3 linked regions of the Homo sapiens genome follow. The protein of the gene in region 2 purifies or fractionates together with the protein of the main gene of each other region. This does not show direct contact. Each region holds a gene or a part of one and is shown on either strand. Other genes may lie near its edges. The genes, in order: DSG1, HRNR and SERPINB12.

What was found.
Region 1: the proteins of HRNR (region 2) and DSG1 purify together in Homo sapiens (affinity purification with mass spectrometry, with the first as the bait; one large-scale study listed by BioGRID). This does not show direct contact.
Region 3: the proteins of HRNR (region 2) and SERPINB12 purify together in Homo sapiens (affinity purification with mass spectrometry, with the first as the bait; one large-scale study listed by BioGRID). This does not show direct contact.

The regions. Positions count from the first base shown.
Region 1 is NC_000018.10:31,328,010-31,331,665, reverse strand, and holds part of DSG1 (desmoglein-1 preproprotein), read right to left. Parts: intron 3,478-3,656; coding exon 3,322-3,477; intron 1,775-3,321; coding exon 1,630-1,774; intron 1-1,629. UniProt on the Homo sapiens protein: Component of intercellular desmosome junctions. Involved in the interaction of plaque proteins and intermediate filaments mediating cell-cell adhesion.
Region 2 is NC_000001.11:152,217,629-152,221,284, forward strand, and holds part of HRNR (hornerin), read right to left. Parts: coding exon 1-3,656. UniProt on the Homo sapiens protein: Component of the epidermal cornified cell envelopes.
Region 3 is NC_000018.10:63,545,329-63,548,984, reverse strand, and holds part of SERPINB12 (serpin B12), read right to left. Parts: intron 3,359-3,656; exon of another isoform or gene 3,255-3,358; coding exon of another isoform or gene 3,252-3,254; intron 2,085-3,251; exon of another isoform or gene 2,036-2,084; intron 1-2,035. UniProt on the Homo sapiens protein: Inhibits trypsin and plasmin, but not thrombin, coagulation factor Xa, or urokinase-type plasminogen activator. May play a role in cell differentiation.

The sequences.
Region 1 (3,656 bases), on a different chromosome or scaffold from region 2:
TTTACATTTTTGTTACAGTAGAGTATATCACCTTTCCAAAAAAGTGTTAGAGTTAGTTGATCCTTATGATGTGGACTTCACTGTCTTCCCTTTCTACTCCTTCAACATATGGATATCTTAGCTCTTTTCTATATCTTTGCCTAACAAGAAGATCACATTTTACTAGGAATCTAGACATTGTTGATAACTGGGAAACAAAGGAAATGTGTTATTCTGGCTTTCTATTTCTTCTTCTAGCATATTTTCTTCTTTTTTAAAGGATGCTGTGGCGAAACAAAATGATAATAAGGCCAGACCAACATTTTCCCAACTTTCTCAACACTTTCTAGCTATATGATCTTGGCCTCAATTTTTATATCTATAAATGGGGATGATATTACTGCCATCCTTACTGAATTCATGTGAGAATTAAATCATTAATAAGAGAAAACTATATAAAGTTCCTAATGAATAATGCACGTTTGATAAATATACATTACTACTGTTTTGTTTTGGGTGATCCTTCGTCAAGTGCAAGGTAATTAGTAGATCTAAAGAAATGCTTGCTTAACTACACATATTGTCCTGTCTCTTATCTTTTCATTAATTTTATAAGTAGTTTTGATGAAGATTATTAGATTATTGGAGAATGTGGAAAACTGCCAGTGCTCATTCATAACTTTGGAATTGTTCTCTACTCTCCAACTCCATTTTAAATACAATTTTCCTACAAATGCTTCATGGCATCTGTCATCCCCCACCTGTATTTATTGTAGCATAACCTTTAAAATGTTTTCACTAGATAATTAACATTTATATACACTTATGTAATTTATATAATTAAATTCCATGCAACTATTGAAAGCAGTGAAACAATTATGTGTCCTGATATGGAAATATGTTCAAAATATATTTATATAAAAATTCATGTTGTGGATTAGCATGTAACAGATGATACCATTTATGTTAAAAAACATGTGATTTATGTTTACATAATTATGGAGCGCATGTACACAGTGCATACCTCTGAAGAATGGTACTAGGAAATGCAGACAGCAGATTTTTGTTCCCTTTTACTTTCCATATTACATAAATTTAATGAGCATTTTATAATAACACTTTTAAAAGTTGAAAGTATAGGTACAGTATTTTAATGAATAAAAGTAAAGTGTAGGGATTTTTGGAATTCACAAGAAATTTTATCACTTAAAGGTTAAATCACAAAAAGAAGTTTTGTGTGGAAGTGATTTCTATAAGTGATTTTAAAGTAGCTAACTTTAAAAAAGGGGAAAAAACGCAGTAAGAGCAGAAAAGGGTGGGATTGTCCTTCTACACAGTTAGACTGGGAGGCTAAATTCACATCCCGATGCCTCTGCCACCATTGTGCAAAATGCCTTTAAAATTTCTTGTTAGGACTCTTCTACAGGGCTGGCCTGCGAGTTATGTGAGAAAAATCCTCCTCATTGCTTTGGAATCACGCCTTGTGTCCCTCAGTTTGGAGCTGCTTCCGTAGTTGAAAGGAAAGACTTGCTATTCTGCATCTTTTCTATAGTTTATCTCTTACATTCATGATGTGTACTTTGACATAGTTTAGTCTCCAGTTAGGTGCCTGGCTGTTAGGAGTGATTTGGAAGCCACTACATTACTTACTTGCATTAGAATTTTCTTCTATTTGTCCTGCAAATGTAGCCATTGAAAACACTGGAGGGTTGTCATTTATATCCAAAACCCTGACTCTGAGCTCTAGAGGCCTCTCTAAATCTTGGCCCATTGAGTTCAGAGCTCGGCAGTAGATCTGGGAGAGAAAAGATAAATAATTATACAGTGAAACACAGATTTATTAAGTTCTTACTTTGAGCATTATGCTAGCACTGTGGCGAATTAAAAGAATTATTATGTCTACTTAGAACATAGGCACAAGCCCTACTTACAGTCACTAAGGGAAAGCAAATGTGGCATTCTTAAGCTAGGTAGTAGCTACATGGGGGTTTATATTATTATTATGATTATTATTATTACTATTATTATTTGTATTTGAAGCGTCCCTAAGTGTAATGTGTACTATTTTACAAAATGGCATATTTCATATATAAAGGCATTATGATACTAGCCTGGGCAATATAATGAGACCCTGTCTCTAAAAAAAAATAAAGACGTAAAAAAATGCATTATGCCCCAAGAAAAGCTAACAGGGTAGCATGCCTTTTTAAAGTTTGTGGGGGATCATTGTGGGACAGAAGGGAGAAATAGAGATTTGGAATTGAAGGCTAAAGAATTAAAGTTGTGTGAGGAATACAGGCAGGCGGTGTGAGTGAAAACTGCAAATATCGATTATTATTTGAAGGTATTTTGGGATACGGACTGGTGGGGTTTTAATAGAAGAGGTAACAGGAGCAAAATAGGGTTTCTTTATTTCTATTTTTAATATTAAGAAGTGTTGGCCATGACGATAGAGAGAAATGGGAGTAGCCAAGGAGCCAGCAGAAGGGAGACAGAAAACAGAGGTGATGGAATGATTCTCCAAGTAAGTGGCAATTATAGGACCATGGAAATGTCTTGGAATATGCTGTGAGAAAAAGCAAACAATTGATCCTGCTTTTGATTTAATGAAGAACATTTCTGAGCTGGGCGAGTGAGAAATAATTATGGGAGTTTGTGATGGATGGCCTCAGCCTTTTTCATAAAGTTGGTCACAAGGTCAACTGCTTAAAGTGGAAATGAGGTTGAGGGTTTGAAGAGATAGGATACTTAAGCTATGTGACAGCTCCTGTAAAGAATGGAGTGAGATTCACTTAAGAATGGATGCATTTTCAAGGTGCATTTGGAGCTCAGGTGAGCTTGAGGAATATGAATTTATAGTAAAGTATATTTGCTCAGAAAACAGTCCTGCAGTAGCTCTAGAATCATTTACTTGTCATTAGACCTAAAATAAGGTAACATTCTTTACTGAATTTATAATAAAGTATATTTGCTCAGAAAACAGTCCTGCAGTAGCTCTAGAATCATTACTTGACATTAGACTTAAAATAAGGTAACATTCTTTACTGAATTTTTTAAAAAAGGAAAAATTAAAAAGTTAGGTAATTGTCCTTCCAAACAAATACTCTAGTTTGCCAATGAGGACAGTATAGAGGTTAGCATTTTTGCTGACACTTAAGTGAAACATTTCCTTCTCTCTTAATCTTTGCATTTCTTTTCAGTCGTGGGATGCTCGTGAATTAAGAAACAACCAAAAATGCCAAATATTGAGACTCTTGAAATCAAATTAAGTATGATCTGAGATTAAGAACTTCTGAGAAGAATTTAAGCATGAACATATATATTGACATGAAGTCCACTTACAATGAAGAAAGGAGTGACCTCTCGATCAACTATGGATGTTATATTAATTTCACCAGTTTTCTGATTAATGACAAAGATCCCATATGGTGGCTGATCAATTCCTACTCCAGAGATGCGGTATGTAACTTGCTGGTTTGCAGCACAATCTGAGTGAATCTGCAGAAGGAACACAAGTAAAAATATTAGAGGGAGCAAATAGAGTTCTATATTTGATATACGACAGCTTTCTTGAGAGTTGTTGCATGTGATGACCTTGTTATTTAGGAAATGTTGTCAATGGAGATTATTTTCCTAGATAAGAGTAACAATTACAGCTCTAATATTTTCAATGGTAA
Region 2 (3,656 bases):
AAGACTGGCCTGTGCTAGATCCCTCCTGGTCAAAGGTTGATGACTGTCCTGATGTAGAACCATGCTGTCCTTGGCTACAGAAGTGCCCTGAGCCACTACCATGCTGACTGTAAGCAGAGGAATGTCCTGAGCCAGACTCATGTTGACCAAAGACAGAAGAGTGACCCGAGCGAGACTCATATGGGCCACGGCTGGAAGAACGACCTGAGCCAGACCCATGTTGGCCGTGGCTGGAGGAGTGCCCCAAACCGGACCCATGTCGGCCGCGGCTAGGGGAATGGCCAGATCCAGACCCTTGTCGGCCGTGGCCCGAAGACTGACGGGAGCCAGACCCATGCTGACCATAGTGGGAAGACGAACCTGAGCTAGATCCGTGTCGTTCACCCCTAGATGACTGTCCTGATCTAGAGCCGTGTTGTCCGTAGCCAGAGGAGTGACCTGAGCCAGACCCATGCTGACTGTAACTAGAGGACTGCCCTGAGCTAGACTCGTGGTGACCAAAGCCAGAAGACTCGCCTAAGCCAGACCCATGTTGGCCACTGCTGGAAGACCGACCGGAGCCAGACCCATGTCGGCCGTAGCTGGGAGACTGCCTTGACCCAGACCCACGCTGGCCGTGGCCTGGAGACTGGCCAGATCCAGAGCCCTGTCGGCCATAGCCAGAAGACTGACTTGAGCCAGAGCCATGCTGACCGTGGCTGGAAGACTGACCTGAGCTAGCTCCATGTTGGCCACAGCTCGATGACTGTCCTGATGTAGAACCGTGTTGCCCATGGGTAGAGGAATGACCTGAGCTAGATCCATGTTGACCGTAGCCAGAGGACTGTCCTGAGCGAGACTCTCGGTGACCTAAGCCAGAAGAGTGACCGGAGCCAGACTCATATGGGCCACGGCTTGAAGACCACCCTGAGCCAGACCTATATGGGCCATAGCTGGAAGACTGCCCGGAACCAGACCCATGTCGGCCACGGCTAGGGCTAGGAGACTGGCCAGATCCAGACCCATGTTGGCCGTGGCCCAAAGACTGACGGGAGCCAGACCCATGCTGACCATAGCTGGAAGACGAACCTGAGCTAGATCCATGTTGTTCGCTCCTAGATGACTGTCCTGACCTAGAGCCGTGTTGTTCGTAGCTGGAGGAGTGACCTGAGCCAGATCCATGCTGAGTGTAACCAGAGGACTGCCCTGAGCTAGACTTGTGACCAAAGCCAGAAGACTGGCCTGAGCCAGACCCATGTCGGCCACTGCTGGAAGACCGACCGGAGCCAGACCCATGTCGGCCATAGCTGGGAGACTGCCCTGACCCAGACCCACGCTGGCCGTGGCCTGGAGACTGGCCAGATCCAGAGCCATGTCGGCCGCGGCCCGAAGCGTGATGGGAGGCAGACTCATGCTGACCATAGCTGGAAGATTGACCTGAGCTAGAGTCATGTTGGCCGGAGCTTGATGACTGCCCTGACGTAGATCCATGTCGTCCCTGGCTAGAGAAGTGACCTGAGGCAGAACCATGCTGACTATAGCCCTGTCCTGAGCCAGACTCGTGTTGCCCAAAACCAGAAGCCTGGCCTGAGCCAGACTCATAATGGCCACAGCTGGAAGAACAACTTGTGCCAGACCCGTGTTGGCCGTGGCTGGAGGAGTGCCCTGAACTGGACCCATGTCGGACACGGCTAGGAGAGTGGCCAGATCCAGACCCTTGTCGGCCGTGGCCCGAAGATTGATGGGAGCCCGACCCATGCTGACCATAGCTGGAAGACAAACCTGAGCTAGATCCGTGTTGTTCACTCCTAGATGACTGTCCTGACCTAGAGCCGTGTTTTCTGTAGCCGGAGGAGTGACTTGAGCCAGATCCATGCTGACTGTAACCAGAGGACTGCCCTGAGCCAGACTTGTGACCAAAGCCGGAAGACTGGCCTGAGACAGACCCATGTGGGCCATTGCTTGAAGACCAACCGGAGCCAGACCCATGTTGGCCGTAGCTGGAAGAGTGCCCAAAATCGGACCCATGTCGGCCGCGACTAGGAGACTGGCCAGATCCAGAGCCCTGTTGGCCATAGCGAGAAGACTGACTTGAGCCAGAGCCATGCTGACCGTGGCTGGAAGACTGACCTGAGGTAGCTCCATGTTGGCCACAGCTCGATGACTGTCCTGATGTAGAACCATGTTGCCCATGGGTAGAGGAATGACCCGAGCTAGATCCGTGTTGACCGTAGCCAGAGGACTGTCCTGAGCGAGACTCTTGGTGACCTAAGCCAGAAGAGTGACCGGAGCCAGACTCATATGGGCCACGGCTTGAAGACCTCCCTGAGCCATACCCATGTGGGCCATAGCTGGAAGACTGCCTGGAACCAGACTCATGTCGGCCACGGCTAGGGCTAGGAGACTGGCCAGATCCAGACCCATGTCGGCTGTGTCCCAAAGATTGACGGGAGCCAGACCCATGCTGACCATAGCTGGAAGATGAACCTGCACTAGATCCTTGTCGTTCACCCCTAGATGACTGTCCTGACCTAGAGCCGTGTTGTCCGTGGCCGGAGGAGTGACCTGAGCCAGATCCATGCTGAGTGTAACCAGAGGAATGCTCTGAGCTAGACTCGTGGTGACCAAAGCCAGAAGAGTAGCCTGAACCAGACACATATGGGCCACTGCTGGAAGATCGACCAAAGCCAGTCCCATGTTGGCCGGAGCTGGGAGACTGCCCTGACCCAGACCCACGCTGGCCGTGGCCTGGAGACTGGCCAGATCCAGAGCTGTGTTGGCCGCGGCCTGAAGAGTGACGGGAGGCAGACTCATGCTGACCATAGCTGGAAGACTGACGTGAGCTGGAGCCATGTTGGCCAGAGCTTGATGCCTGCCCTGACGTAGATCCATGTTGTCCCTGGCTAGAGGAGTGACCTGAGCCAGAACCATGCTTACTATAGCCAGAGGACTGTCCTGAGCCAGACTCATGTTGCCCAAAGCCAGAAGTCTGGCCTGAGCCAGACTCATAATGGCCACGGCTGTAAGAGTAACTTGAGCCAGACCCGTGTTGGCCGTGGCTGGAGGAGTGCCCCGAACCGGACCCATGTCGGACGTGGCTAGGAGACTGGCGAGATCCAGACCCTTGTCGGCCGTGGCCCAAAGACTGACGGGAACCAGACCCATGCTGACCATAGCTGGAAGACGAACCTGAGCTAGATCTGTGTCGTTCACCCCTAGATGACTGTCCTGACCTAGAGCCGTGTTGTCCGTAGCCAGAGGAGTGACCTGAGCCAGATCCATGCTGACTGTAACCAGAGGACTGCCCTGAGCTAGACTTGTGTTGACTAAAGCCAGAAGACTGGCCTGAGCCAGACCCATGTGTGTCATTGCTGGAAGACTGTCCGGAGCCAGAGCCGTGTTGGCCATAGTTGGGAGACTGCCCTGACCCAGACCCACATTGGCCGCGGCCTGAAGACTGATGGGAGTCGGAGTTTTGCTCACCATAGCTGGAAGACTGACCTGAGTAGGAGTTATGTTGGCCAGAAAAGTCTCTTTGAAAACTCAGTCTTCTGGATATGGATTCAGTCCCAGGTTTAAGACTTCCTCTGACGTTTCTGGAATAGGAATCATTCTCTCCTGCACTCCAACTTGAATGACTAAAAGAGGATTCTTGCCGTTTGTTCTCCTCTTTTTCA
Region 3 (3,656 bases), on a different chromosome or scaffold from region 2:
ATAATTCTACGATAAACATTGTCATAAATATAGCTTTTATCTCCCTTCATATTATTTCTTCAGAGTATCTTCTTCAACATGGGATTTCTAGGTCAAATATTATAAAGATTTTTAACTTTCATACTGTCAGCCAAAAGTTACAGATGAAACTGCTATATCATAATCACCTTTTTCAGATATTATTGCCATTCTTAATAACTTAAAAAATAAAAAGAAAATTGTATTATTTTTAAATTTACATGGCATTGATACTTGCTAACATTTGAATGTTTCTCCATGTGTTCTTTTCTCTTTATAAATTCTCACATATTAACTGTCTCTTGTTCATCTTTCAATTATCTATTGAGGTCTTGATCATTTATTTATGGATCATTATGAACTCTTCATATTATATAAACATTTTATGTTTTTCAAACTTGTTCTTTAAAAAAATTTCCCCTGTTTTACCTTCCTTTATTTTCTTTATTGTTATTATAGAATTGTTTTTACTCTTATTTACTGAAAATTGTCAATATTTTCTGGCACTCTCTTCTATCACTTCAAAACCTTGAGGGTAATGTATTTTCAACTTAATTTTAAAACCTCATCTACTTTCAATTTTTTACAAGAAAGAAAATCTTTCCTGTAAGATTTTAACTTACATTGTTAGCTTTGAAGATACATTTTTAAATACTGACTATCTGAAATGTGTAACATTTTTAATTTTTTAAAGGTATTTTTTTCCATTTTTATGGTGTTTGAGGTATCAACAAATGATCTATTTTGCTTGTTTTCTTTCCTTCTGGCTTTGTTACACACGTAAAACCTTCTTCCACTTTCCTCCAACCTCTCCCTCTAAAGAGTTAATTAGTCACCACTGTATACAATAACCATACAACATTTGTTTCCCTTAACTCCTCTATCACACTGTAAGGTAATTATTTTTTATACTGATGTCTTTACTTCCAAATCATAATTGTCTTGAAGGTAGGTTCAGTGTTTTTAATTCATCCTTGTACCCATCCGTGAAGAACACAATGGTAGCACATGAGAACCCTTCATAATATTTATGGATTGATTTGCTGTCATCTGCCCATTTTTCATTGTAGATAATCCTAATGTTTGAAATGTTAGAAGACTATTTAGCATTTCATATTAACTTTATATATCCTGCAGGAAGCTGTAATTAACAGAGATTCTGCATAAGAGAATCAGCTTTTTATTAATTTTTTACTATATAAGAAAAAGTTCACTTACTGCAATATAAAAAAAATTCATTTACTGTATAAGAAAAAGTTCATTTATTACAATTTTCCCTTATAGTAAAAATGTAAAGGTTTAGACAAGATAGACATTCTAACAACCCAAAATATTCTGAGTAAAACTGTTTTTTCCTATATATAGTAGGAAGAAAAATATTTATACTCCAAAAATATTTCATGTCTTATAATTTCTATAATTCCCACAAAGCTACTAACAACTCAAGAATGAAATTCAAACTTTACACAAATAGATGCTATTCTGCTGGAACAAATATTCAAACCAGGTTACAGCAAACTAAATAATAACCAATATCTAAAAACAAAGAAATACTTGTGAACAATACCATCGAAAGTGTTTTCCAACTTATGGTGCAAAAAAAAAAAATCTAACTCACATTGTTTAAAATATAGATATTCTAAATATTATACCATCTTATGTTTCAGAAATAATTCATTAAAAGATAAAATACAATATGTCAAGTATGTGAAAGTTTAAAAAGTTATTCAAACATCTACATTTTAAAAAAATCAATCATATACATCAGGCATCTGACCAGGTGGTTGGGGCTGAGCGAGGTGACAAGCATTGTTAATATCTCCCAGTGATGACTGCCACATCTGCAGAAAATCCAAAACATCATAAAACTAACTCACTTTTTTTAAGTATTTGACTTAATAAAAACAAGTATATCCTTCTATTTCAATCACATCTCCTCTGGGTTTCTATCCTTTAAAATGGTTTTCCAATTCAGTGTTCATTGTTAAAAATTATATCAGGCAATTCGAGCATTTACCTTCTTGCCCTCAGAGTTGCTGCTAACAGCTGGTCAGGTAAGCTTCCCTCCACACCCTGTCGGGAATGGAAATATATCAACTTTGCCCCTCCCTCTGTGGAACTTTTCCAGTGCCATTTTGGAATCCAGAGTAAAATCATCATTGATAGATTAAAGGGAAAAGAAAAGAGTGGCATATATTTTTAAAACAAATGCTATGCTTTTAACTACATTGAATATTTAACTTAATATGCTTATATTTTCTTTGCTCTTTCCAATTTTATAGAGCCCTCAAAGCAATACTTGGCTCACACTTTTCAATTCAAATTTCTATACTAGAAGACCATGAAGCAGAAATGTATTTTACTTCATATACACATTGTCTTAGATGATTTCTTATATTTGAATTTTTGCATTATTCTAAAATCTTTCTAAGTTATTACATAGGATTTGCAAAATGTGCTCTAAGCTACTTCAAAGTTTTTGCTTTCCTGCAGTAGGTGTGTGGTAGGGATGAGAATTATTATTTGATTATTGACACACATATTTTACAACTGAAAACACAAAACTTTTTAAACTTAGCCAAAGCATGTTCTGATGTTACTTTTGGTTCTAGCACTCTACAATCGTGTTATGTTACTGACTGTAAACATGAGGGTCAGTGGATAGGGCAAAAAGTGTGGAGCAACTAGGAGAAAGCTAGGAAGAGTCAAACTCCAGGAACTGACATGTCTTAAGGACAAACGAGGACCCCTCTCTGACCTGGTTCTCCTACTGAGCCCTTTATCTTCCTTTTCTAACTTGTTGTCAGACAACAATATTATCTGAACCATGACCCTACAAATACATTAGGTGTAGAGAAATTCAAAGGAAAACTTTCTAAAATGGAGAGATGGCCTTTATGGAAAATATAAACTACTTATGTAGCTAGTGTATAAATAAAACAAGTTTTATAAGATATTGACCAGTGGAAATTAATGACTAAGCATCCAGAGTTTTTCTGAATTATCAATAGTAAGCATAGAAAAGAAACGTGCTGTTAGTTTTCTTTACTCCTTGATCATTTGAAAATAATTATTTTTTTTTCTAAATTCTTCCACAAAATTCTAAAAACCAGTCTAGTCATTGGTTATGATTTGCAAGAGTTTGGAAAATTTTAACACGTGAATTATTTAATATTTTATGTCATTGATTACTACTTCATGTTGCCCATCATAGCCTTTCCAAAAGGGTATACCATTCATATTCAGAACAGGATGAGTTCTTGCCTGGCTTCCTGGAAGTAGGTGTCACATCTGTTACTGTTGGGGGATAATATTCAAATTTCACTGGGCTTCTGGGTACCTGAGAAGAGTATAAACTTGTTTGAATGTCTTTAATCTAGATTTGCATCTGTTTATCCTCTTAAATAATTCAACAAAGATCTAACTACAGATGACTGTGCCCTACAAGCCTAAAAATTTGGTGTGGTGCGATTGCTCAATGAGCGAAGATGAAATCTGACACTAAATGTAGCTAAACATTAAGGTAGCTTGATAAATCACTAACAAGGGGATGAGAATTTCTTGAGCACTTACTAAATGTCAAGCTGCATTTGGTACTTTACACATGTAATATATCACTGAATGGCTGAAGAAAGCGA